7 linked regions of the Homo sapiens genome follow. The protein of the gene in region 2 interacts with the protein of the main gene of each other region in a pairwise test. Each region holds a gene or a part of one and is shown on either strand. Other genes may lie near its edges. The genes, in order: FAM161A, BEND5, LMO3, EIF3D, USP20, GRAP2 and ZGPAT.

Region 1 (3,500 bases), on a different chromosome or scaffold from region 2:
GGGCTCAAGCAATCCACCTGCCCCAGCCTCCCAAAGTGCTGGGATTACAGGCCTGAGCCATCAGGCCTGGCAAATTCTTACCTTTGTAATGTTTACTTTTTGGTAGGGGCAGGCATATAATACACAATCAAGTACAGATATGTAGGACGTCAATGGTGATGAGTACTTCTGGGAAAAATAAGACAGACAAGGGGGCTGACAGTGAGTCCTGGGAGAAGTTGTAATTTTAAATAGGAGAGTCAGGGAAGACCTTATTGAGAAGACAACATTTACATAAAGACCTGAAGGAGTGAGCAAGTGGGTCATGTGGATATCTGGAGGAAAAGGCATCCTAGGGAGAGGGAACAGCAAGTGCAAAGGCCTTGAAGTAATTCTGTGGATTTTTGTTTCTTTTTTTTTGAGATGGAGCCTCACTCTGTCACCCAGGCTAGAGTGCAGTGGTGCGATCTTGGTTCACTGCAACCTCTGCCTCCTGGATTCAAGCGATTCTCCTGCCTCAGCCTCCCGAGTAGCTGGGATTATAGGCATGCACCACCACACCCGACTAAGTTTTGTTTTTAGTAGAGATGGGGTTTCACCATGTTGGCCAGATTGGTCTCGGATTCCTGACCTCAAGTGACCCAAAGTGCTGGGATTACAGGCATGAACCACTGTGCCTGGCCAATTCTGTTGATTTTTCGAGTGAAAACTGCATACTGGATTCAGACACTGCTACTAAAACGAACTGCTGCTGCCCAGATGAATAACCGTTGCTAGACTGACACAAGCCGACAGGAAGCAGTCAGAGGGCTAACAGAAAGGAGTAAGTCCCATCTTTCTCCTCTAGCCTTGTATCTCCCTCTAACTCCACTTTTAGCAGAGTCTGATGAGGAGCACTGGCAAAGCAGAAGTGTGGTTTGCAGAGTTCCAGCTCTGGCATTGCAAAGCAGAGTCGAGAAGGGTGGCATTGGAGCTGAGAGACACTAGTTTAACACCTGGCACACCTACTTTACATATCTTAAAGCTGATGTTCAAGAAGTTCATGCCCACATCACATTGCTAAGTGCGGAGCCCAGGCTTGTATGAGTATCCTGACGTCACATCTGAAATCTTTCTCCTAAGCTGTGAGAACACTCCAAACTAAAAGTTATTTAACTCCCACCCAACCCTTTCATCTTTGAAGGGTCATAAGGGGGCTGAAACCACGTGACCAGTAATCAGGAGCCAGTGGTAGGCAGGAGATGGAAACCCCTTCTTGCTTGCCCTAACCTCCCTTTCTAGGTTTACTTCCCAAAACTGCTTTATGGGTTTTCCTCTCCTTTTATCCGGCAGCCATGTGCACCTTGCCCTCTGCTATGCACAGCCTCCCCAACCCCAGCCTGCGCATTTGCTAACGCCATTTCCTTTGCCTAGGGTACTTTCCCCTTCTTTCCCATAAACACTCTGTGATCCTATAGATTTCTCCATTCTTTTTTTTTTTTTTTTTTTTTTTTGAGACAGAGTCTTGCTTGATCGCCGAAGCTATAGTGCAATGGCTCGATCTCAGCTTACTGCAATCTCTGCCTCCCAGGTTCAAGCGATTCTCCTGCCTCTGTCCCCTGAGTAGCTGGGACTACAGGTACACGCCACCATGCCTGGCTAATTTTTGTATTTTTAGTAGAGAAGGGGTTTCACCATGTTGGCCAGGCTGGTCTTGAACTACTGAGCTCAGGTGATCCACCCACCTCAGCCTCCCAAAGTGCTGGGATTACAGGCGTGAGCTACCGCGCCCAGCCTTCTTTTTTCTTGATACAAGGTCTCACTCTGTCGCCCAGGCTCAAGTGCAGTGGCGCGCTCACGGCTCACTGCAGCCTCAACCTCCTGGGCTCAAGTGATCCTCCCACCTCAGCCACCACATCCAGCTAATTTTTTAAAAAAAATTTGTAGAGATGGTGTCTCGCCGTGTTGCCCAGGCTGGTCTGGAACTCCTGGCCTCAAGCAGTCCTCCCACTGCAGCCTCCCAAAGTGCTGGGATTACAGGCATGAGCTACCACACCTGGCCTCCATTCTTTATGACTCATCTCAAATATTACCTCCTCCAGGAAGTCTTCCCCTATCTTCCAAACTCAAACGAAACAAAAGCTCCCTCCATTTCCTGTCTACCACTGGCTCCTGGTCACTGGTCACCTGGTTTCAGCCCCCTTTTGACCCTATAAAGGTGAAAGCATTGGGTGAGAGTTAAATAACTTTTAGTTTGGAGTGTTCTCATGGTTTAGGAGAAAAATTACAGATGTGGTGTCAGAATACTCAATCAGAGGCTCCAAAGACCCGTATCAGTTGGTCTTTGTATCTCTCATGCCACTCTCTACCTCCTATTAGTCCTCCTTCCGCTGCTTATTTAAATGTTGGTGTTCTCCAACATCTCCATTCTCAGGTCCTCTCATGTCTTGTTGCTCACACTCCCTCCAGGCAGCCTCGTCCATAACCAAGGCTGCACCTGCTACTTCTGTGTGGATTGGTGGCTCCTGTATCTGCTCTCCAGCCCAGCCTTCTCACCAGGTCTCCAGACATTTATCCACATGTTTCCTGGCGATGGATGTTCTAGCACTATGCCTCGGATTTATTTATTCCTTTTTCACTGCCTCCCTGATCTGGCAAACTTTGTCCTCGTCCAACCATGTGTCTCCAGTCTGGCTCACCTCTGTGAATTGTGCCTCTGTCTCTTAGTGTCTGACATTGTGACATACATCTGTCTCTCCGCTTAGCTGGAAGTAGCTTGTGGGCAGGAATCAGGTGTTCTGTCTCATTCTAAGTCAGCTGTCTATTATTTATATACATGTCCTTTCCTAAGCTAGCTGGAAACTTCTCAAAGGTAGAGTTTTTGTTTGTTTGTTTGTTTTAAGTGAGACAGAGTCTTGCTTTGTCACCCAAGCTGGAGTGCTGTGGTACGATCTTGGCTGACTGCAACCTCCACCTCCTGGGTTCAGGTGACTCTTCCGCTTCAGCCTCCCGAGTAGCTGGGACTACAGGTACCTGCCACCATGCCTGGCTAATTTTTGTATTTTTAGTAGAGAGGGGGTTTCACCATGTTGGCCAGGCTGGTCTCAAACTCCTGACCTCAAGTGATCTGGCTGCCTCGGCCTCCCAAAGTGCTGGGATTATAGGTGTGAGCCACTGTGCCTGGCCTCAAAGGTAGAGTTTAAAAAAAATCTGACGTACATTTTAGCAGCTAGCTGATTGCAGGATGGCCCCCAAATATTTAATGAATGAGGAAATTCACAAAGTAGTCATCCTGCAGATAAGAAGTTTATGGTGAGAAGCACATAAAGAAACAGCAGAAGATATCAGAGAATTCTCTTAATTGAATTGTTTGACATAGTTAAAGCAGTTCTCTGATTCATAGAGTTGTTGGTAGCAAATTTCTGCACGTAAGTTCTATTGAAGACTGCTTTTTTTTTTGGAGACAGAGTCTCGCTCTGTCGCCTAGGCTGGAGTGCAGTGGCCTGATCTCAGCTCACTGCAAGCTCTGCCTCCCAGGTTCA
Region 2 (3,500 bases):
CCTTGTGTTTTTGGTCCTTACAACCCAGTATATGATAAGAACCCAACCAAAATGCAAGGTGTGACTTCGTGAGAGACACTGGCTTATATAGTGCAAATATCTGCTCTCTATGCCATCCTAACCCTAATCCTGAGTTGAAGGTATAGATACCTCACATCCATAGAAGATTACTGAACATTCAGTGTCATCATAACAAATGGAAGAAATGGTTGGGAGAGGGTGGCCCAGTATCTAGCAAAAACAGTGCAGTCTTTTGAATCAGGTGGTCCTAATTTGGAATTCTGGCTTTGCTACATACTAACTGTGGCAGCTTGGGGTAAGCTAGTTAACCTGTCTGAGACTCAGTTTCATTACCAGTGAAGTGGGGATAATAAACTCTTTTCCAAAGAGATAGTGCATGTAAAAGCACCAAGCACAGTGCCTTTCTTGTCATAGATGTTCAATAAATAGCAGCTGTTAGGCTACCCTTGTGTATTACCTGTTTGCCTTTTGTCCCAAGGCAAAGAGAACCACTGCAGGTATCTGACACAGACTGAGACATGATGAAAGAGATGTTTTAGGAAGATTAATGTGACAGTGGCAAGCAAGACGGATAAGACGTGAGGAGGAGACAGAACACAGGGTGACAAGAAGCTGTAACTCTTGACTGGTCACATGAATGAAGGTGAATGGTGGTGTGGATCATGTAAGACAGTAAATACTTTATGTGGCATTTTAATGTGACTTTGGGATATGCTTCTGGCTTTGAATTCCAAGAAACCACAGAAGAAACTAGGAAGGATGAAAAAGCTCTTTACTCAGCCGGTCTGTGCAACTACTCTAACCTTGAGGCCAAATAATCAGTTTTAGTGTAAACAAAAATAAATGTGCAGCCTCTGAAGATAAAATCACCAATCTTCACTTCTGGACTCTTTTATGTCCAGGGCAAGGGAAACCACCAAAGATTTGGGCATTATCCTTTTCCTCCTCCTTTCTAGCTACTACAATGTCAGCTAATTACATTCATCCATTCAACAAATACTGAGTGAGCACCTACTATGTGCCAGGCTCTGGGCAACATTCCTTACAAACTCACTATATTTAATCCCTACAATAATGCTACTGAAGCAGAAACTGAGGCTCAAAGAAGTGAAGTGGCTTTCATAAAGACATAAATAGCAGAGCCAACATTTCAAATCAAGTCTGTTTAATACAGGCCCTGTTCCTATCACCTAATTATCCTACAGCAACAAGAGAAAAATAAGGAAGTTGCTGTAACTTCCTCAAATGAACTAAAAGGCACATGTAACATGAGTATGTCAATATAACTTCCTAAAGTGCCTGCCTTTCTCCCAAGATCTTGCCTACACCCTAAGAGAATACTGTGATGAATTCCCAAGTTGAAGTAAACACTATATAAATATGACCTGTTGCCAAACTCCTGAACTACAAGGCTTATGGAAGCCACAAAGCTCTAAATAATGCCCAAATAGGGTCTCTACTCAAAGCCACAAAGAGCTTTCTTGTAAAAAAAATGGTAAAAACTGCTATTCAAAAATATAGAAGAACTTGGTGTTATTAATCTGAGGAGGATAAACATTCCATTAAACTTACTACTGGGGAAAAAAGGAAGCATGCTGGTAATAGGCAAATGGTGTTTTAGAAAAAACAAGCAGGTGACAGGAAACCCAATGCAAGTCTGTATTCAAAAGTGAATTTACCCATGAAGAATTTACAGTATTATTAAAATGGGAGAAATTTTGTCTTAACTTCCATTTGACATATAATCAGGCTGGGCAATTAAAATAATCCAATGTCAGAGAGCCTAATTTGGTATGAGTTTGTTAGCCAGGATGAAATTCTGAAAGGCTACACATAAAATGCTTTGTAAAGGTCTTATAAATATCTATATATAAGTTTAAAGTTTTTCATCTATACAAAAATCCTGTGCAGTTTTATGTTTGCATTAAAAACAGATATGCCACAGAAAATACAAACACAGTGCATTCTCTGGCCGATGGTGTTTGTTTTTATAAAATCCAAGGCAGACAAAATTCTCAAGTTTCAAGGATTGTACCCAGCCAAGACTACAAAAAAAAGAGTGCCCTGCTGTGGTGTTGCAGAAAGACATCAGGAGACACCAAATCGAGGCCTGCCTCTCTCATTAACTTGTTTGGTGATTAGTCCTCTCTTGATTTTCTTTTCTGTAAAACATGAAGACTACAGTAGAAAACCTTAACAGATCCATCCAGCTATGTGACCGCTGGCCAGTCACAGGGACTTCCAGGTCTCTTTCTCAGCTGTGTAATGTAGGGTAACAGTAGATGAGCTAGAAGATTCTTCCACGTGGGCATGTTTGAAGAAATGCCCTACTGAGGCCATCCACATAGGGAGAGAAGGAATTGCTAGCCAGGTTTCAGTAGGTCTCCTTGTTCTCACTCCCACCACCTCTCTGGCCTTGGTACAGGACTGGGGCACAGAAAAAACTGGGAAGTTCATTCTATGGAGCCATTTGTCTAGCTGCCTCCATGTGCCTCACCAGGGCTGCTGCCAACACAATAAATGCCCCCAGGATAGGGTCGCAGAGGAACAAACAGGGAGGGAAATATTAATAGTAAGCCTTTCATGCTTAGGTCAAGTCCCAGGAGGATTTAAAACACACACACACACACACACACACACACACACACACACACACACAAGTTAAATTTTAAACTTGTATGCTCCTTCCAAGTGCTCGTTCCTCTAAGTCATTCCTTTCCACAGTGGGCAGTACCCACAACTAAGCAAGTCACTGTTCTTCTCTCAGCACCTATTAGTCCACTGTAGTTCCTAACAGTTATCTATATTTAATGAGAACCTACTATATGCCAGATATTTTTCCATATTATCCTGCTAAATAACACAGTGGGCAATTACTATCTCCATGCTATAGATGAGCACCTGGAACTCAGAGATGTGAAGTAATCTCCCCAAAGCCACACAGCTTCTAAGTAGCACAGTCACAATTTTAACCCAGACTATGTAACTTCAAAGCCTGTCCTCTTTCAGCTCTCTAAAATTTCCTCTTCAGTAGTTAAGGAAATGATCTAGAAGTCATCTAACCAAACTCTCCCATAGTGCAGGGTTCCATCCTAAAATACCCCTGACCTGCTTGCCACCTTTAGTGACAGGGAGCTCAGCACCATGCTAGAAGCCCTTTCCATTATTTGTCTGCTCTCTCTGCTGTTATATTGCTCCCACCAATGCCTGTGAATTCCATTCTCTGACCCCAACTCTGCTTTCAAGAGCAAGGCTGATCCTTCCTCTGTGGTGCAAAACTGAGAAAATGAAAATTACCAAAATATCATCCCATTCAAATCTTTTCTTTTCCTGCTTATGTATTTAGCTGTCCTATCCTATGTCTGACCAATGAGTGAAAAGGAAAAGGTAGCTGCTATATAGTTAAAAGAAACCCAAACAAGCCTAGTTCTAGGATCCAAAGACCTCTCTTCTCATTTGGTTTCCAGGACACCTATCTC
Region 3 (3,145 bases), on a different chromosome or scaffold from region 2:
CAAGTCTCTAAGACTATATGAAGTCAGCTAAATCACTCAAAAATATCTAGAAATTACATCTCATATTAATTCCAAAACATCAGAATTAGATGGTTTAATAATCTAATTGGGCATCTTCTTATTCCTTACCATAATTTTTTTAAATGAGGGTAAAATTAATTGAACTGAGCATACTACAAGTAATTAGGGTCAGATTACAAGAAAGATTATGTTTATTTTTAGTAATTGTAGCCTGTTAATATACTTACAGTATCCTCTGGCTATCACTCCTTTCATAATGCTTTTTTTTTTTTTTCCTGCAAATGCTGAATCTCATAAGAAGTTGGTTAAATCACACTGGAAATTAGCATTTCTTACAAAATCACAGTTACAGATTAATTTGTTAAATACATACTATCTGTATTGCTGTCTCTGAAATTTCTTTATATTTATATATGAAGCATTTTTTAAAGAGGATGTCAACCTTAATTGCATACCAGTCGTAATCTGCTCTTAACCACAGCTTTCAAGGCTGTTTTGTTTGAGTCATATGTGCAAGTGTGACATCCCTCATCCATGTTCGTTTCATCTTGACCTTTAAGTATAAATTGAAATGCATATAAAATGCACTTTATCCAGTTGATAACATATTAGTAATAAAATATGTCAGGTAGGAATATTTTAGAAAAGTTCTGTCTCTCTCTCGCTCTGCCTCTGTTGCTCTATATATACCACTTAATTGAATAGTAGGCAGACTTTTTTAAAGTTATGCAAAAGAAATAATAGTAATACAAAAAACACAGTTACACCCTGTATAACCATTTAATCTTCACATTATTCTTGTAGCCTGCATGCTTTACTGCCCTCAGGTAAAAGCTTGAGTCTTGAATCCAAAAAGGCCTGGGTTATTTTTCTTCCTTTACTATAAACGTTTTAACTACAGAATCTTGGGCAGGGCTTTGAAATTCTGGCACGGAGTCTTAGGTTTTTCTTCTGTAAAAAGCCATGACAATGCTTACTTTCTAGGTTGGATGTAGGGAATAAATGTGATCATGTACATACATGCTTAGCATTTAGCACATGGTAAGCATAAAAAGGTGGCTATTTTACCTATGTTTCAAACATTGAGGTAAGATTTTAGATATTTCATTTCTACTCCTTGCCACAAGCCTACAAAGTCGACTGATGTCACAGGTATTAAAAACCAAAGTTTTATTTTCAATTATCATAAGTGGGAAGGTAGAGTTTGGACCCTACTGGTTGCAGTATACCTCTCTGCCTTTCAGACACTTTTCATTTGATAAGGATATCAAACTGGCTTGCACAAACACCATTATTGAAGTGCAACATTTAAAGTATACAGGTTACAACTAATACAAAGAAAATATACTTAAAGCCCCAAACTTGAATGTTCATTGTATCCAGTAGCTTTGACCACAAACAACCCTAGGATTTCAAGATCAGTGCATAGTCTGTGCTTTCAATCAACATCATCAGCAGGCAGTAATCCTGGGGAAAAAAAGTAAATTCCACAAATAGACCAATTTTCCTTTAAGAGGAAAGCTAATTCTTTTCAGTCTACTTTTTTTATTACACTATTTTCCTCTCTATCTACTTAGCTAGTATAAGGATAAATTTCCAAAGCTACCCAGTTGGAAAAAAATAGGTTCACTGTTTGTCTAGCATTCCAATCTTTGCAAATGTAAATCAGTCCAACTGCTCCTCATTTAAACCTTCAACTTCACAAAACATTAAAGGGTGGCTTTCACTACACAATTTAATCTATCCACTAAGATTTCTGCTGGAACATCATTTGAAATTGACTATCTGATAAAGAGAGACTACTATCAAAGGTCATAGAGGTCAACTTGTATAATTACAAGTAGTTTTACTGGGTCAACTCTACCAGACACCACTATTTGAAGGTTAAATTGTTACAATTAAATATATATACAGATCTCCCCAGAGTTACTTTATTGTTAAATGTACCAGAAACAGAAAAAACATTTATTTCTGACCTTAATTGTGTCCAAAGTGTCACCGTGGGGAAATCATACAGAAAGAACACTTATTAAAAACATTGCAGTCTTGCACATTAAACAATGCTTTATGAAATAAAATGCATAATTAGCTATTGGAAACTAGTTTAGTTTATCACATCAATATTAAGTAGTTCATTTAGGTTACTCCCTTTGGTTGAATTGGAAGTGCTCTAAGAAATGACATCTACTATTTCATGTTGGTGAACTTGCCACAAACAAAGGAAAATGGCTCAGCATCAGAATCTGATGCTAGAGCAACTTTCATTTCAGAATGATCACTTCTAGATTACTAACATTTAATCACATTTTAATAACAGAGTAAAAGAAAGCTTTAAATGGGAAGCTTTAAAATAGGCTATTTTCTAATTGTTTGATTCATTTTAATGCCTTTTACTTTTTTATTAAGTGCCTAAATGGCCAGAGATGAAATCATCCATAATTACTGCAGTGAAACATTATTATCATTCTTTCTTTTATTTTAATGGGTGTAAATACAGATCAGTTCTTTTTATTTTTTTTCTTTCCAGTGTGGTTTAAAAAAAAAAAAAGCAAGTCATCTTTGGTGCCCAAAGTGTTTATCTCAATATCCTTAGAATTTTTGCATGCAAAGGCAAGATTTCAAATGTGTGCAACATTTCATTAAATGAAGTAAATGGTAAATGGTCTAATTCTGATAATGAAGACAACTGTCTAAGCCAGGTTTTCAGATTCAGGGAATTACCATGCGAAACTATTAATAGGAAAATAAATCTTCAAATTTCTAGATCCAAGTGAAATGGTCTTAACCACATTTTATTGTTTAAAATATTTTCAGATTTTGTGTTGGAGACAAATTTTTCCTAAAGAATAACATGATCCTTTGCCAGACGGACTACGAGGAAGGTTTAATGAAAGAAGGTTATGCACCCCAGGTTCGCTGATCTATCAACATCACCCCATTAAGAATACAAAGCACTACATTCTTTTATCTTTTTTGCTCCACATGTACATAAGAATTGACACAGGAACCTACTGAATAGCGTAGATATAGGAAGGCAGGATGGTTATATGGAATAAAAGGCGGACTGCATCTGTATGTAGTGAAATTGCCCCAGTTCAGAGTTGAATGTTTATTATTAAAGAAA
Region 4 (3,500 bases), on a different chromosome or scaffold from region 2:
GCACCCCCAGTAGCCCAGCAGTAGGCAGCTATGAATCTGTTTTCTGTCTCGGGATTTTTTGTTCTAGACATTTTACATAAATGGAATCATACAATATGTGGTCTTTAGTAACTGGCAGCTTTTATTTAGCGTGTTTTCAAGAGTCATCCATGTGGTAGCATGTGTCGGTACAGTTTTCCTTCAGTATATGAAAGTCTACACATTCTCAAGTCCCACATTCGGCCTGTGGTAGCCACATATATGAAAAGTCGGCCCTCCATATACTCGGGGTTTGCATCCCAAGAATACTGTTTTCTTTTTCTTTTCTTTTTTGAGACAGAGTCTTGCTCTGTCACCCAGGCTGGAGTGCAGTGGCATGAATCTTAGCCAACTGCAACCTCTGCCTGCTGGGTTCAAGTGATCCTCCTACCTCAGCCTTCTGAGTAGCTGAGACTATAGGCATGCACCACCACGCCTGGCTAATTTTTGTATTTTCTGTAGATAGGGGGTTCTGCCATGTTCCCCAGGCTGGTCTCAAACTCCTGAGCTCAAGCAGTCCACCCACCTCAGCCTCCCAAAGTGCTGGGGTTACAGCCATGAGCCACTGCGCCTGGCTTGTATTTTCAATCCATGTTTGTTTGAAGAAAATCTGCATATTAAGTAGACCCATGTACTTCAAACCCATGTTGTTCAAGTTCAGCTGTGCTTCATCTGTTGTTGGTTTTTTTGGTTTTTGTTTTTTGTTTTTTTAAGATGGAATCTCACTCTGTCACCCAAGCTGCAGTGCCAGTGGCGCGATCTTGGCTCACTGCAACCTCCGCCTCCCGGGTTAAAGTGATTCTCACACCTCAGCCTCCCAGGTAGCTAGGATTACAGGCACGTGCCAACATGTCTGGCTTTTTTTTTTTTTTTTTCATATGTTTTGTAGAGACAGGGTTTTACCATGTTGGCCCGGCTGGTTTCAAACTCCTGACCTCAGATGATCCACCCACCTCAGCCTCCCAAAGTGCTGGGATTACAGGCGTGAGGCACCACACCCAGCCCAGATGAGCTTCTTTTCTTGTTTATTGCCAAATAAGAGTCCTTTGAATTATACATCATGTTGTTTTGAGCCATTCACATGCTGATGAACATTTGAGTTGTTTTTCACTTTTTGACTATTATTGATGCTGCTGTGAACGTTCACCTGCGTGTGCTTGTGTGGGCATTCTGAGAACAGAACACATGTAAGCAAAAGTGAAGCTACATTTTGTTGGATATGATGCTGTATCAAGAATAGTTAATAACCCGAGAGAAATATAAAGGACCTTCTACATGTTCATCAGGTGACATCATTACCTGGGAGTGGAACCCCATTTGCTTTTGAACTTTTGATCCCTTTGGTCCTCTTCCACACCATAAATTCCTGGGAGTCAGGGATTCTGTCTTATAAAACAGTCAGCACTCCATTTATTGAATAAAAGCTCTTTTTCTTTTCTCTCTTTTATTGAGACGCAGTCTTGCTCTGTCACCCAGGCTGGAGTGCAGTGGTGCTATCTCAGCTCACTGCAACCTCCGCCTCCCAGATTCAAGCTGTTCTCCTGCCTCAGCCTCCCGAGTAGCTGGGATTACAGGCATGCATCACCATGCCTGGCTAATTTTTGTATTTTTAGTAGAGATGGGGTTTCACCATGTTGGACAGGCTGGTCTCGAACTCCTGACCTCAGGTGATCTGCCCGCCTTGGCCTCCCAAAGGGCCACTGAGCCCCTCCGTTTTATGTGGTTGTTGTTTGAGACAGGATCTCGTGTCACTCAGGCTGGAGTGCAGTAGTGCAATCATAGCTCACTGCAGCCTCAAACTCCTGGGCTCAAGCAATCATCCTGCCCCAGCTTCCCAAAGTGCTGGGACTACAGGCATGAGCCACTGCACCAGGCCAGCTCTTCATATTTTTAGCCTGTCTTTTATTTATGTTTTGTATGGACTATAACTTTTTTTTCCTCTAATGGTTTTCAACTGCAGAAACCCCGAGACTCTTCAGTTGAAGTTCGTAGTGATTGGGAAGTGAAAGAGGAAATGGATTTTCCTCAGTTGATGAAGATGCGCTACTTGGAAGTATCAGAGCCACAGGACATGTAAGCAGCATCTTTTACTACTTTCTACACTGCTCTTATGTGTGTGGACCAGCTGGTGATGGGTATTTTCTTAAGCCCTAGTATTTCCAAAAAGGCTTTGAAGCCACTTACTCAAAACACATTTCATAAGGTTAACAGAGGTATTTGAAAAAAATCAAGACCGGCCAGGTGCAGTGGGTCACCTGAGGTCAGGAGTTCAAGACCAGCCTGGCCAACATGGTGAAACCCAGTCTCTACTAAAAATACAAAAACTTAGCCGGGTGTGGTGGCACACACCTGTAATCCCAGCTACTCAGGAGGCTGAGGCACGAGAATCACTTAAACCCTGGAGGTGGAGGTTGCAGTGAGCTGAGATCTTGCCATTGCACTCCAGCCTGGGCAACAAGAGCGAAACTCCATCTCAAAAAAAAAAAAATCAAGACCAAGGGGAAAAGCAGAAGTTCACTGACTGCAAACTTCTTTTTAACTTCCTGGTATCCTGAGGAAAGAAGAAATGAGTTATACAACTCTTTTGGCAGAAAGAGAAAGCAGAATGGAATTTGCTGATTATTAAACTGTATATTTCTGTTTCCTGGCATCCTGAGCAAAAGAGCAATAAGATTAAGTTATAAAACTCTTGTCAGGAAAAGAAACACAGCAATTCTTCAGGAGGAATCTTTGCTTCTCCTGACATTTCAAATAGCTTCTTACCTCAAAGGACAAGTAGGTGGAATTTAGGTAGTGGGAAACCAGAGCACCAGACGAGAAGTCAGCCTACCCAGGTGCTTCTATAACTAGTCATCTCCTGTCTTAGCCTCGGTCACCCTACCTTTAAAATGGGGGCGTTGGGCTAGATGAGTTGTGCTTGCTGTGTTCTATGCCAGGTGTTAAGTGGACAGGAACTGAGCAAGCACTGAGGATTCGTCTCTCCTGCTCTGGCCAGAGATTGCTTTCCACCTCTTTTAGACTTTTGGATAAGACTTCTGGATGTATGGCTTAAAAGAAAAAACTGGGGGTTATCTCTCTTACTTTGCATGTCTTTGCCTGCTCTTCCCACAGTGAGTGTTGTGGGGCCCTAGAATACTACGACAAAGCCTTTGACCGCATCACCACGAGGAGTGAGAAGCCACTGCGGAGCATCAAGCGCATCTTCCACACTGTCACCACCACAGACGACCCTGTCATCCGCAAGGTGTGCGCCTCCTTCTGCCCCTCTCCCCCTTGTTAGGAATGCTGTCGGCTTCTACAGCTGAAGCTGCAGAAAGAACAGAAGACATGGGAATAACGTATGTATTATAGGTAAAAGCACTTTGCCAGGTAGACCGGAAATGTGGATGTTAAGCACAGCTGGACTTGAAGCCCAGTTCTGCCGCGCTTCCTGGCTTAGTCTCTGGAGCCTTAGTTCTCTCATCTGCAACAAGGGGTAGATG
Region 5 (3,500 bases), on a different chromosome or scaffold from region 2:
TCCTACCAATTTCAGTGTCCTAATGTATAGAACAGCCAGTGACACAAATTATAGTAGTAAACATTTTTTGAGCATTCTTGTCATGCAAATCAATAAAAAATCTGAGCCACCCAGAAAGTCCATGAGGCCCTAAGTCATTCAACTTAGCGTTTACTGTGCATTGGCTCACTTCATCTTCTCAGTAACCCTAGGTGCTGTCATTGTCCCCATTTTATGAATGTGGAGACTGAGCGATTTATCTAAAGTCACAGACTTGCAAGGGGCAGAGTGAGGTACTGAACCCAGGGCTACTTGTCCCTGTAATTTCCTTCCATAGTGACCGTTACCTCCCGGGATAATGTATGTGCAGCAGCTAACCCTCAGTGAGTGTAGGAAACAGAGGTGCTGGTGGTGATTATCACCTCCCTAGTGTCTGCTTGCAAGTACCCTGAGGTTGAAGTATGGGACTCTGTACACTACAAGAGCAGGGCCTATGCCTGGCTGTTTCCCAGCACCCCAAGTCACTGTTCCTAAGGAGGTACATGGTCAGTGTTGGTTGGGTACCAAAAGGAAGCAAAATGATAACTTTCAGACAGCTGAGATATGCACCCTCTTGTCGACCCCCATGCTTCCGATATTTTAGGTCCTGTGTGTGGAAGTTTTTTTTTTTTTTTTTAGACGGAGTCTTACTCTGTTGCCCAGGCTGGAGTGCAATGGCGTGATCTCGGCTCACTGCAACCTCTGCCTCCTGGGTTCAAGCGATTCTCCTGCCTCAGCCTCCTGAGTAGCTGGGCTTACAGGCATGTGCCACCACACCTGGCTAATTTTTTGTATTTTTAGTAGAGATGGGATTTCACCATGTTGGTCAGGCTGGTTTCGAACTCCTGACCTTGTGATCCACCCTCCTTAGCCTCCCAAAGTGCTGGGATTACAGCTGTGAGCCACCGCACCTGGCCCTTTGTGTGGAATATTAAGCACCCAGTGTTTTCTGTACTACCGCCCTTTTTCCTTCATAGAAATGATTTTTAACCATTAATTTTTAAAATGTTAGTAAACCTTAAACTTTTTATGTTGCACATACTCATATACTGCTGATAGGCAGATAAATGTATATACTGTTTCTAAAGGGAAGCTTATCAATATCTATGTAGAGCCTTCAAAGCACACATTTTGACCAATAATTTTTTTTTTTTTTTTTGGTCAAAGATGTAGGCCGGGCATGGTGGCGTACACCTGTACTCCCAGCACTTTGGGAGGCCGCAGTGGACAGATCACTTGAGGTCAGGAGTTCGAGACCACCCTGGCCAACGTGGTGAAACCTCGTCTCTACTAAAAATACAAAAATTATGTGGGTGTGATGGTGGATTCCTGTAATCCCAGCTACTCTAGAGGCTGAGGCAAGAGAAACGCTTGAACCCAGGAGGCGGAGGTTGCAGTGAGCAGAGATCACGCCACTGCAGTCCAGCCTAGGCAACAGACTAAGACTCTGTCTCAACCACGACAACAACAAAAAGACAGTCTGGTCGCAGTGACTCACGCCTGTAATCCCAGCACTTGAGAAGCTGAGGCAGGCGGATCACCTGAGATCAGGAGTTCAAGACCAGCCTGACCAATGTGGTGAAACCTCATCTCTACTAAAAATCCAAAAAGATTAGCTGGGCGTGGTGGTGTGTGCTTGTAATCCCAGCTACTTGGGAGGCTGAGGCAGCAGAATTGCTTGAACCCAGGAGGTGGAGGTTGCAGTGAGCCGAGATCACACCACTGCACTCCAGCCTGGGTAACAAGAGTGAAAACTCCATCTCAAAAAAACAAAACAAAACAAAACAAAAAGATTTAGTCAAAGTTTCACATTCCTGGTGGCTCACACCTGTAGTTCCAGTACTTTGGGAGTCCAAGGCAGGCAGATTGCTTGAACCCAGGAGTTCCAGACCAATCTGGGCATCATGGCAAAACTCTGTCTCTATAAAAGAAAAATTAAAAAGTAGCCAGGCTTGGTAGTGCATGCCTGTAGTCCTAGCTACTTGGGGGGCTGAGGTAGGAGGATCACCTGAGCCCAGGGAGGTAGAGGCTGCAGTGAACCATGATCACACCATTGCACTCCAGCCTGGGTGACAGATTGAGACTTGTCTTTAAGCAAAACAAAAGATTCATATTCCAAAATGTTTCTCAGTGCCTTCTTTATAATGGCAAAACACACATACACAAAATACAAAAATACCACGTCCTATGATGGATAAATAATTCAGTAAGGGGTTGTATAGCTTAAATTATATGTGGTATAATATTATTCACCTATTAGAAATGAAGCTGAAAAGAAATTTAGTGACATTAGAAATATATAAACCAAAAAAAGCTGTATACAAATTTATTGGTTATATTGCAGTTTATTTTTAAAATTTATATATCTGGTTGGGCATGGTGGCTCACGCCTGTAATCCCAGCACTTTGGGAGGCCCAGGCAGATGGATTGGTTGAGCTCTGGAGTTTGAGACCAGCTTGGGCAACATGACGAAACCCCATATCTACAAAAAATACAAAAATTAGCCAGGCGTGGGAGTGTGTGCCTGTAATCCCAGCTACTCGGGAGGCTGAGGTGGTAGGATGGCTTGAACCTGAAGTGGAGAGTGTGTTCAGTCGAGATCGCACCACTGCACTCCAGCCTGGGTGACAGAGCGCGACTCTGTCTCAAAAAAAAAAAAAAAAAAAAAAAAATTATATATTCGTACATGTAAATAAGACTTACCAAAACCAAAAAGGTAACCATATTTTTTTTCCTGTACAGCAGGATTACAGGTGATTTTTATTTCATTTTATGTCTGTGTCTGTTTCCAGCTTCTATGAAGGTATATATCAAATTTATGAAAACCAGACAAAAATGCCTTTAAAATTTTCAGGACAAGTAGGAGAAGATGAAAAATTTGAATACAACATGGAGGTAAATGAGGCAAAAATGAATATTGAGAGGGCCGGTCATGGTGGCTCATGTGTGTAATCCCAGCACTTTGGGAGGTGGAGGTGGGCAGATCACTTAAGCCCAGGAGTTCAAGACCAGCTTGGGCAACACGGCAAAACCCTGTCTCTACCAAAAATACAAAAATTAGCCAGTCTCATAACCTGGTCTCTAAATAAATAAATAGATAAAAATACAAAAAACACATGTTGAGGGCACTTCTTGGCCCCTGTGAGTCACCTGGAGAAGTGTGCTTAGGAGCCATCCAGGTAGCAGCTTTGGGGACTTCTGGGACCACTCAGATGCTCCCACCCCTTCTCTGAAAACCACCCTGTGTAGGCTCAGGGCAGTGCCTGGCACAGGGGCCTGGAGAGCTCCAGGGAACAGAGGCTCTGTCCCCTATGGTGCCCTCAGGAGTTTGGGGAAGAGCAACATACCTAGGAAGCCAGATGCACACTCTTCTTATTTTCTTATTTTGGAAACTTGAAAAACCATTAACAGTAACCGATTTAGGTATTTTTTTTGGTTTGTTTTTGTTTTTAGGAGCAGAGGTTTAACAGGCAAAAGAAAA
Region 6 (3,500 bases), on a different chromosome or scaffold from region 2:
CACCCGAAATCAGTCAAGCAAGAGGCCACTTGTACAACCTGTGGCTTCACCCAGCTATGAGCAAATCCCAGCACATAAGATGAGATTGAGGGTCAGAATTTCCATCTCCTTCTTAACACAGGTCCCTAAATCCATCCCTAAGAAACCTCCATGGTCAGGCGCAGTGGCTCACGCCTGTAATCCCAGCACTTTGGGAGGCTGAGGTGGGCGGATCATGAGGTCAGGAGATCGAGACCATCCTGTCTAACACGATGAAACCCCGTCTCTACTAAAAATACAAAACTTAGCCGGGCGTGGTGGCGGGCGCCTGTAGTCCCAGCTACTTGGGAGGCTGAGGCAGGAGAATGGCATGAACCTGGGAGGTGGTGCTTGCAGTGAGCAGAGATCACGCCACTGCACTCCAGCCTGGGCGACAGAGCGAGACTCTGACTCAAAAAGAAACCTCCACTTACTCTCAGAGGTATCTTTACTCTCCGAGACCCTTTAAAATTCTTGACCTTTCTTTTACATCAGGCAATTGGCATCACTAGTGCCAGTTTATTTTTAGATATAAATGTATGTCTGTTTGAAAAATAAACTTTACATCCAAAAGAGAATGACTTGGCAATGAAGTAAAACTGGATCTAATGGTAAAGGCTCAGCCCACCCTTCCTAGATGGATAAAATCCATTTTCTCTAGCCCTGGTTCGAATGTGTCCCATCACTTGTGAGTCCAGACTGGCAACAAAAGGTGCTGATCTAAAAGAAGTTATCGTCCAGTGGCAGGGTCTGGGGAAGGGGCGGCAGGCGCCATGTCCAGCCACGAAGGTGGCAAGAAGAAGGCACTGAAACAGCCCAAGAAGCAGGCCAAGGAGATGGACGAGGAAGAGAAGGCTTTCAAGCAGAAACAAAAAGAGGAGCAGAAGAAACTCGAGGTGCTAAAAGCGAAGGTCGTGGGGAAGGGGCCTCTGGCCACAGGTGGAATTAAGAAATCTGGCAAAAAATAAGCTGTTCCTTGTGCCTAAGGAGACGGTGACCCTTTATTTCATCCGTATTTAAACCTCTCTATTCCCTCCTATAATATCTTTTGCCACCTATAGTTGGAATTAAGTGTCGTCTTGGAGCTGTTGTACATTTAAGAATAAACTTTTGTAAAAAAAAAAAAAAAAAAATCTTCCAGTGGCTCATCATCTCTTTAGTTGTTTTCACTAAGTCATTCCTACCATAACTGTGAATTTAAAGTAAAACCAGCTCAGAATCTTGCCAGAATCTGCTCTTTGGTCGTTGTTCTACCCTAAACTTTGTATCACCTGAAATTAAACCAACTCATTTGAAAGAAAAAAGAAGTTATCATGTTTAGGTGGCGTGACAGGCCAAGCTCACTAGACTGGAGTCAGAGACTCAGGGTTCTGGCCTCAGCCCTTACTCAGCAGTGACCTTGACCAAGCCCCTGCACCTCTGTGAGCCTCAGTGTCCTCATCTGTAAAATGGAGAAGTAAGGCTAAACAATCTCCAACATCCTTGCCAATTAAAACTCTATCATTTCACAGGGCGCAGTGCCTCACACCTGTAATCCCAGCACTTTGGGAGGCCAAGGCAGGTGGATCACCGGAGGTCTGGACTTCAAGACCAGCCTGACCAACATGGCGAAACCCCGTCTTTACTAAAGACTTGGTGGTGGGTGCCTGTAATCCCAGCTCCTCAGGAGGCTGAGACAGGAGAATCGCTTGAACCTGGGAGGCGGAGGTTGCAGTGAGCAGAGATCACACCACTGCACTCCAGCCTGGGCGACAGAGTGAGACTCCATCTCAAAAAAACAAAACAAACAAACAAACAAAAACTCTGTATTTCATACAAAGCTATTTCACCAAAAGCTGAAAACACTTTGTAACCTTATTTATGCAAAACATAAACCAAGATCAAGAGATCCTTATTACATAGAGAAAAAATGTGACATATTTCTTAGGAAAGAGAGTAGCTTCTTACCTGCCAGTGCTAGCTTATGGGCTTAAAGGAGATGGTTCAAAGAATTTCTGGTAACAGAAAGATAATAGGAGCTTGAAATACCCCTGTTGACATCTTGCGAATAAACATTGTGAAAAGGTCTTTGATCTCTTTGTCGTTAAGTCACTTGGAACATGCTTTTCTTGTAAAAGGTTAGTTCCAGTGTCCAAAACAAATTTTAGCTCATCTGATTACCTTCTGCTGATGTAAATCCCGTCTAGCATAGCCTGTATCCTAAGTGGTCCATCCTACAAAGTTCCTGCCGAAGCCTGACTGGGCTGGCCCACCTGCCCAGTGATGAGTGAGTCATCCATATCTACATCTCCTGCTCAAAGAGAACTCCACCATCCCAGATGTGAGCAGCCTGGAGGTGGTGACATTATCACCGTGTAACATACAATTTTGTTTTGCCTTGATCTCCAGGCATGAGGATGACGTTCAACACTTCAAGGTCATGCGAGACAACAAGGGTAATTACTTTCTGTGGACTGAGAAGTTTCCATCCCTAAATAAGCTGGTAGACTACTACAGGACAAATTCCATCTCCAGACAGAAGCAGATCTTCCTTAGAGACAGAACCCGAGAAGACCAGGTATGCTCCAGATCCAGTCGACCCCAATCTAGAGATTTTAGGCAGCCTGAGTTCTCACATGAACCACCAGGAAAAATGCATAGGATGGGTAGATCCTCTGAGTATACTGAAAGACAGAGCTCAGAGCTCTGAGGTCAGATCTCAACTTAACACTTCCTAGTCGTGTGACTTTGGAAAGTTCTCTGCGCCTCAGTTTCCTCATCCATAAAGTAGGGACAATGGTAATATCTACCTCCCAGAATGGCTGTGAAGGTTGGAGAAGATAATGTATCCCACGCCTCATGTCATTCCTCATCACACTGCGCTCAGCAAGCATCAGCTCTTACCACAGGTGCTGTTTTTTTGTTATTCATAGACATTGCTACACCAAAGTTTTCAACCTAGCTCAAGAGTTGCCCAAGGATGAAGGAGTTGGGGGTGCTACAGACAGGGACATTAGGGAACAGCCTAGAGTTCAGGAGTTAAATCAGCATGTGGAGTTTTATGATGGGATTGGGGGTAGGGAGGACATGGGAGGAGAAAACTGCACTTGGAATTATTGCTGTTGCAACTGTTTGCAATACAGACTATTGCTTTAAAAGGAAATGCGTCAGACAGACCTGGTATGAAATCCTGCTTTAATCGCTTAGCTACCTGTATTACCTAGCCAAGTTAAGAAACCATCTGAGTATCAGTTTTCTCATCTGTAGAATGGAGAGAGCAATAAAACCTCCCTCACTGGGCTGTTGTGAGGATTAAATGACTTAATACAGCTAAGCACTACCAGAGTCTGGTCCATATTAAACACTAAGAACATGTTAACTTGCCTCCCATAAGTAAATTCACACATGCACACACTCACACACACACACACACACCAATTTATGAACTATTTTTCAAAGGAAATAACATGGTTATAAGAGACAGGTATCATAGGAAGAAGCAT
Region 7 (3,500 bases), on a different chromosome or scaffold from region 2:
TTTTTTGAAACAGCGTCTTGCTGCTCTGTCACCCAGGCTGGAGTGCAGTGGCACAATCTCGGCTCACTGCAATCTCCGCCTCCCTGGCCCAAGCCATCCTCCCACCTCAGCCTCCCTAATAGCTGATACTACAAGTGTGCACTGCCACGCCCAGCTAATTTTTGTATTTTTTGTAGAGACGGGATTTCACCATATTACCCAGGTCTCGAATTCCTGATCCCTTTGATGAGAGATCTGACACATCCCTGTGGTGCTCCCTCTGGGCCAGGCACTGCTCCAAGGGTTTCATATACTTTCATTCATCTGTGCAACAGCCCTGTAGGTAGGCCCTGCAGTCACACCATCTGACAGAGGAGGAAACAGGAGTAGAAGAACTGAGTGGTCCAGGGCTTCAAGGCTCAGAGGGCTCCGGTTGCCCCCAGCCCTCGTTCCGTCCCCTGCTCCACCCAGTGCTGCTTGCCATGTCGGCATCAGGCCTGATCTGAAAGCTTCCGGAGCATCTTACAGACGTCCACCTTGCCACCATTCAGGACTGATAAGTTCTCTTGGATTTGCGTTGGACCTTTTTTTTTTTTTTAAGATGGAGTTTCACTGTTGTTGCCCAGGCTAGAGTACAATGGCATGACCTCCACCTCCTGGGTTCAAGGGATTCTCCTGCCTCAGCCTCCCAAGTAGCTGGGATTACAGGCGCCTGTCACCACGTGGTGCCCAGCTAATTTTTATATTTTTAGTAGAGGCAGGGTTTCACCATGTTGGCCAGGCTGGTCTCGAACTCTTGACCTCAGGTGATCCCGCCTTGGTTTCCCAAAGTGCTGGGATTACAGGCATGAGCCACCACACCCGGCCCAGGATTTCTTTATATATTCTGGATATCATCCCTTATGAAGTATATAGTTTGCAGATATTTGCTCCCATTGTTTGGGTTGTCTTTTCACTTGATATAGTGTCCTTTGATGCACAAACATTTTAAATTTTGATGCAGTGCAATTTATTGTTTCTTTATTGCCTATGTTTTTGTCATCAGGTTTAAGAAACCACCTCATCCATAGTTATGAGGATTTTCACCTATGTTTTCTTCTAAGAGTTCTGTAGTTTTAGCTGTTAAATTTAGGTCTTTGATCCATTTTGAGTTAATTTTTGTATATGTTATTAGGTGAGGGTCCACTTTATTCTTTTGCATGTGGATTTCCAGTTTTCCCAGCACCATTTGTTTAAAAGACTGCTTTTTCTCCACTGAATGGTCTTGGCACTTTTGTCCAAAATCAATTGGCAATATATGTAAGGGTTTATTTCTGAGCTCTCTCTCCTGTTCCATTGGTGTATATGTGCCAGTACCACACTGTTCTGATTATTATAGCTTTGTGATAAGTTTTAAACTCAGGAAGTGGTAGTTATTCACCATTTGCTCCTCTTTTTCAAGTTTGTTTTGTTTCTGGATCCTTTGCAATTTCATATGAATTTTAGGATCGGCTTGTCCAATTCTGCATAAAAGACAGTTTGAATTTTGATATGGATTGCATAGAATGTGTAGATCTGTTTGGGGCACATTGTCATCTTTACAATATTAAGCCTTCTGGCTGGGTGTGGTGGCTGACGCCTGTAATCCCAGTACTTTGGGAGGCTGAGGCGGGCATATCACTTGAGGTCAGGAGTTCAAGACCAGCCTGGCCAACGTGGTGAAACCCCGTCTCTACTAAAAATAAAAAACAAATTAGTCGGAGGTGGTGCACACCTGTAATCCCAGCTACACGAGAGGGTGAGGCAGGAGAATCGCTTGAACCTGGGAGGAGGAGGTTGCAGTGAGCTGAGATCATGCCACTGCACTCCAGCCTGGGTAACAGAGGGAGACTCCATCTTAAACAACAACAATAACAGAAGAAAAAAACAGTATTAAGTCTTCCAATTCATGAATGAAGGATCTGTCCATTTATTTACGTCTTTAATTTCTTTCAACAGTATTTTGTACTGTTCAAGTCTTGCACATTCTTGGTTAAATAAGTATTATTTTTGATGCTTCTCTAAGGAATTGTTTTTCTTTTCCTTTTTTTTTTGAGACAGAGTCTTGCTCTGTCACCCAGGCTGGAGTGCAATGGCACAATCTTGGCTCACTGCAACCTCTGCCTCCCGGGTTCAAGCAATTCTTCTGCTCAGCCTCCCAAGTAGCTGGGATCACAGGTGCCTGCCACCACACCCAGCTAATTTTTTTTTTTGAGATGGAGTCTTGCTCTGTTGCCCAGGCTGGAGTGAAGTGGCCCAATCTTGGCTCACTGCAAGCTCCACCTCCCGGGTTCACACCATTCTTCTGCCTCAGCCTCCTGAGTCGCTGGGAATACAGGTGCCTGCCACCACGCCCAGCTAATTTTTTGTATTTTTAGTAGAGATGGGGTTTCACCATGTAGCCAGGATGGTCTCGAACTCTTGACCTCAGGTGATCTGCCTGCCTCGGCCTCCCAAAGTGCTGGGATTACAGATGTGAGCCACTGTGCCCGGCTGGAGTTGTTTTCCTTAGTTACATTTTCAGGCTGTTTGTTGCTAGTATATAGAAATACAAGCTGGGCACCGTGGCTCACGCCTGTAATCCCAGCACTTTGGGAGGCCAAGGCGGGTGGATCACCTGTGGTCAGGAGTTCGAGACCAGCCTGGCCAACATGGTGAAATCCAGCCTCTATTAAAAATACAAAAATTAGTCTGGCATGGTGGCAGGTGCCTGTAATCCCATCTACTCAGGAGGCTGAGGCAAGAGAATTGCTTGAACCTGGGAGGCGGAGGTTGCAGTGAGCTGAGATCGCGCCATTGCACTCCAGCTTGGGGAACAAGAGTGAGACTTCATCTCAAAAAAAAAAAAAAAGAAATACAGTGGATTTTTTTATGTTAATCCTGTATTGATTGCTGAATTGGTTTATTAGTGCTAATAGGATTTTTTATGCACTATTTAGGATTTTCGATATATACAATCATATATATTCAATATATACAATTAATATATATGTGAATAGAGATAATTGTAGTCTTTGTTTCTAGTTTGCATGGCATTTATTTCTTTTTCTTGCTTAACTGCCTTAGCTAGAACTTCAAGTACAATGTTGAATAAAAGTGACTAGAGCGGGCCGGGGGTGGTGGCTCACACCTGTGTTCCCAGCACTTTGGGAGGTGGAAGTGGGCAGATCACTTGAGATCAGCAGTTTGAGACCAGCCTGGCCAACACGGCGAAACCCCATCTCTACTAAAAATACAAAAATTAGCTGGGTGAGGTGATGTGCACCTGTAGTCCCAGCTACTTGAGAGGGTGAGACATGAGAATTGCTTGAACCTGGGGGGCGGAGGTTGCAGTGAGCCAAGATCATGCCACTCCACTCCAGCCTGGACGACAGAGCAAGAACCCTGTCTTTAAAAAAAAAAAAAAAAAAAGTGGCTAGAACAAACATCTTTATCTTGTTCCTGATCTTAGGTGGAAAACTTTTTTGTTCCTGATATTAGGTGGAAAACTTTTAGTCTTTCAC

The links.
Region 1: the proteins of BEND5 (region 2) and FAM161A interact in binary tests that used the Homo sapiens proteins (3 or more experiments, as listed by UniProt).
Region 3: the proteins of BEND5 (region 2) and LMO3 interact in binary tests that used the Homo sapiens proteins (3 or more experiments, as listed by UniProt).
Region 4: the proteins of BEND5 (region 2) and EIF3D interact in binary tests that used the Homo sapiens proteins (3 or more experiments, as listed by UniProt).
Region 5: the proteins of BEND5 (region 2) and USP20 interact in binary tests that used the Homo sapiens proteins (3 or more experiments, as listed by UniProt).
Region 6: the proteins of BEND5 (region 2) and GRAP2 interact in a two-hybrid assay, tested with the Homo sapiens proteins (one large-scale study listed by BioGRID and IntAct).
Region 7: the proteins of BEND5 (region 2) and ZGPAT interact in binary tests that used the Homo sapiens proteins (3 or more experiments, as listed by UniProt).

Annotation. Positions count from the first base shown.
Region 1 is NC_000002.12:61,844,061-61,847,560, reverse strand, and holds part of FAM161A (protein FAM161A), read left to right. Parts: intron 1-3,500. UniProt on the Homo sapiens protein: Involved in ciliogenesis.
Region 2 is NC_000001.11:48,766,892-48,770,391, forward strand, and holds part of BEND5 (BEN domain-containing protein 5), read right to left. Parts: intron 1-3,500. UniProt on the Homo sapiens protein: Acts as a transcriptional repressor.
Region 3 is NC_000012.12:16,551,018-16,554,162, reverse strand, and holds part of LMO3 (LIM domain only protein 3), read left to right. Parts: intron 1-2,835; coding exon 2,836-2,941; 3' UTR 2,942-3,145.
Region 4 is NC_000022.11:36,519,167-36,522,666, reverse strand, and holds part of EIF3D (eukaryotic translation initiation factor 3 subunit D), read left to right. Parts: intron 1-1,978; coding exon 1,979-2,091; intron 2,092-3,129; coding exon 3,130-3,262; intron 3,263-3,500. UniProt on the Homo sapiens protein: mRNA cap-binding component of the eukaryotic translation initiation factor 3 (eIF-3) complex, a complex required for several steps in the initiation of protein synthesis of a specialized repertoire of mRNAs.
Region 5 is NC_000009.12:129,841,958-129,845,457, forward strand, and holds part of USP20 (ubiquitin carboxyl-terminal hydrolase 20), read left to right. Parts: intron 1-3,500.
Region 6 is NC_000022.11:39,963,584-39,967,083, forward strand, and holds part of GRAP2 (GRB2-related adapter protein 2), read left to right. Parts: intron 1-336; exon of another isoform or gene 337-791; coding exon of another isoform or gene 792-986; exon of another isoform or gene 987-1,322; intron 1,323-2,406; coding exon 2,407-2,575; intron 2,576-3,500. Other genes in the region: TMA7B (translation machinery-associated protein 7B), read left to right, coding at 792-986. UniProt on the Homo sapiens protein: Interacts with SLP-76 to regulate NF-AT activation. Binds to tyrosine-phosphorylated shc.
Region 7 is NC_000020.11:63,711,039-63,714,538, forward strand, and holds part of ZGPAT (zinc finger CCCH-type with G patch domain-containing protein), read left to right. Parts: intron 1-3,500. UniProt on the Homo sapiens protein: Transcription repressor that specifically binds the 5'-GGAG[GA]A[GA]A-3' consensus sequence. Represses transcription by recruiting the chromatin multiprotein complex NuRD to target promoters.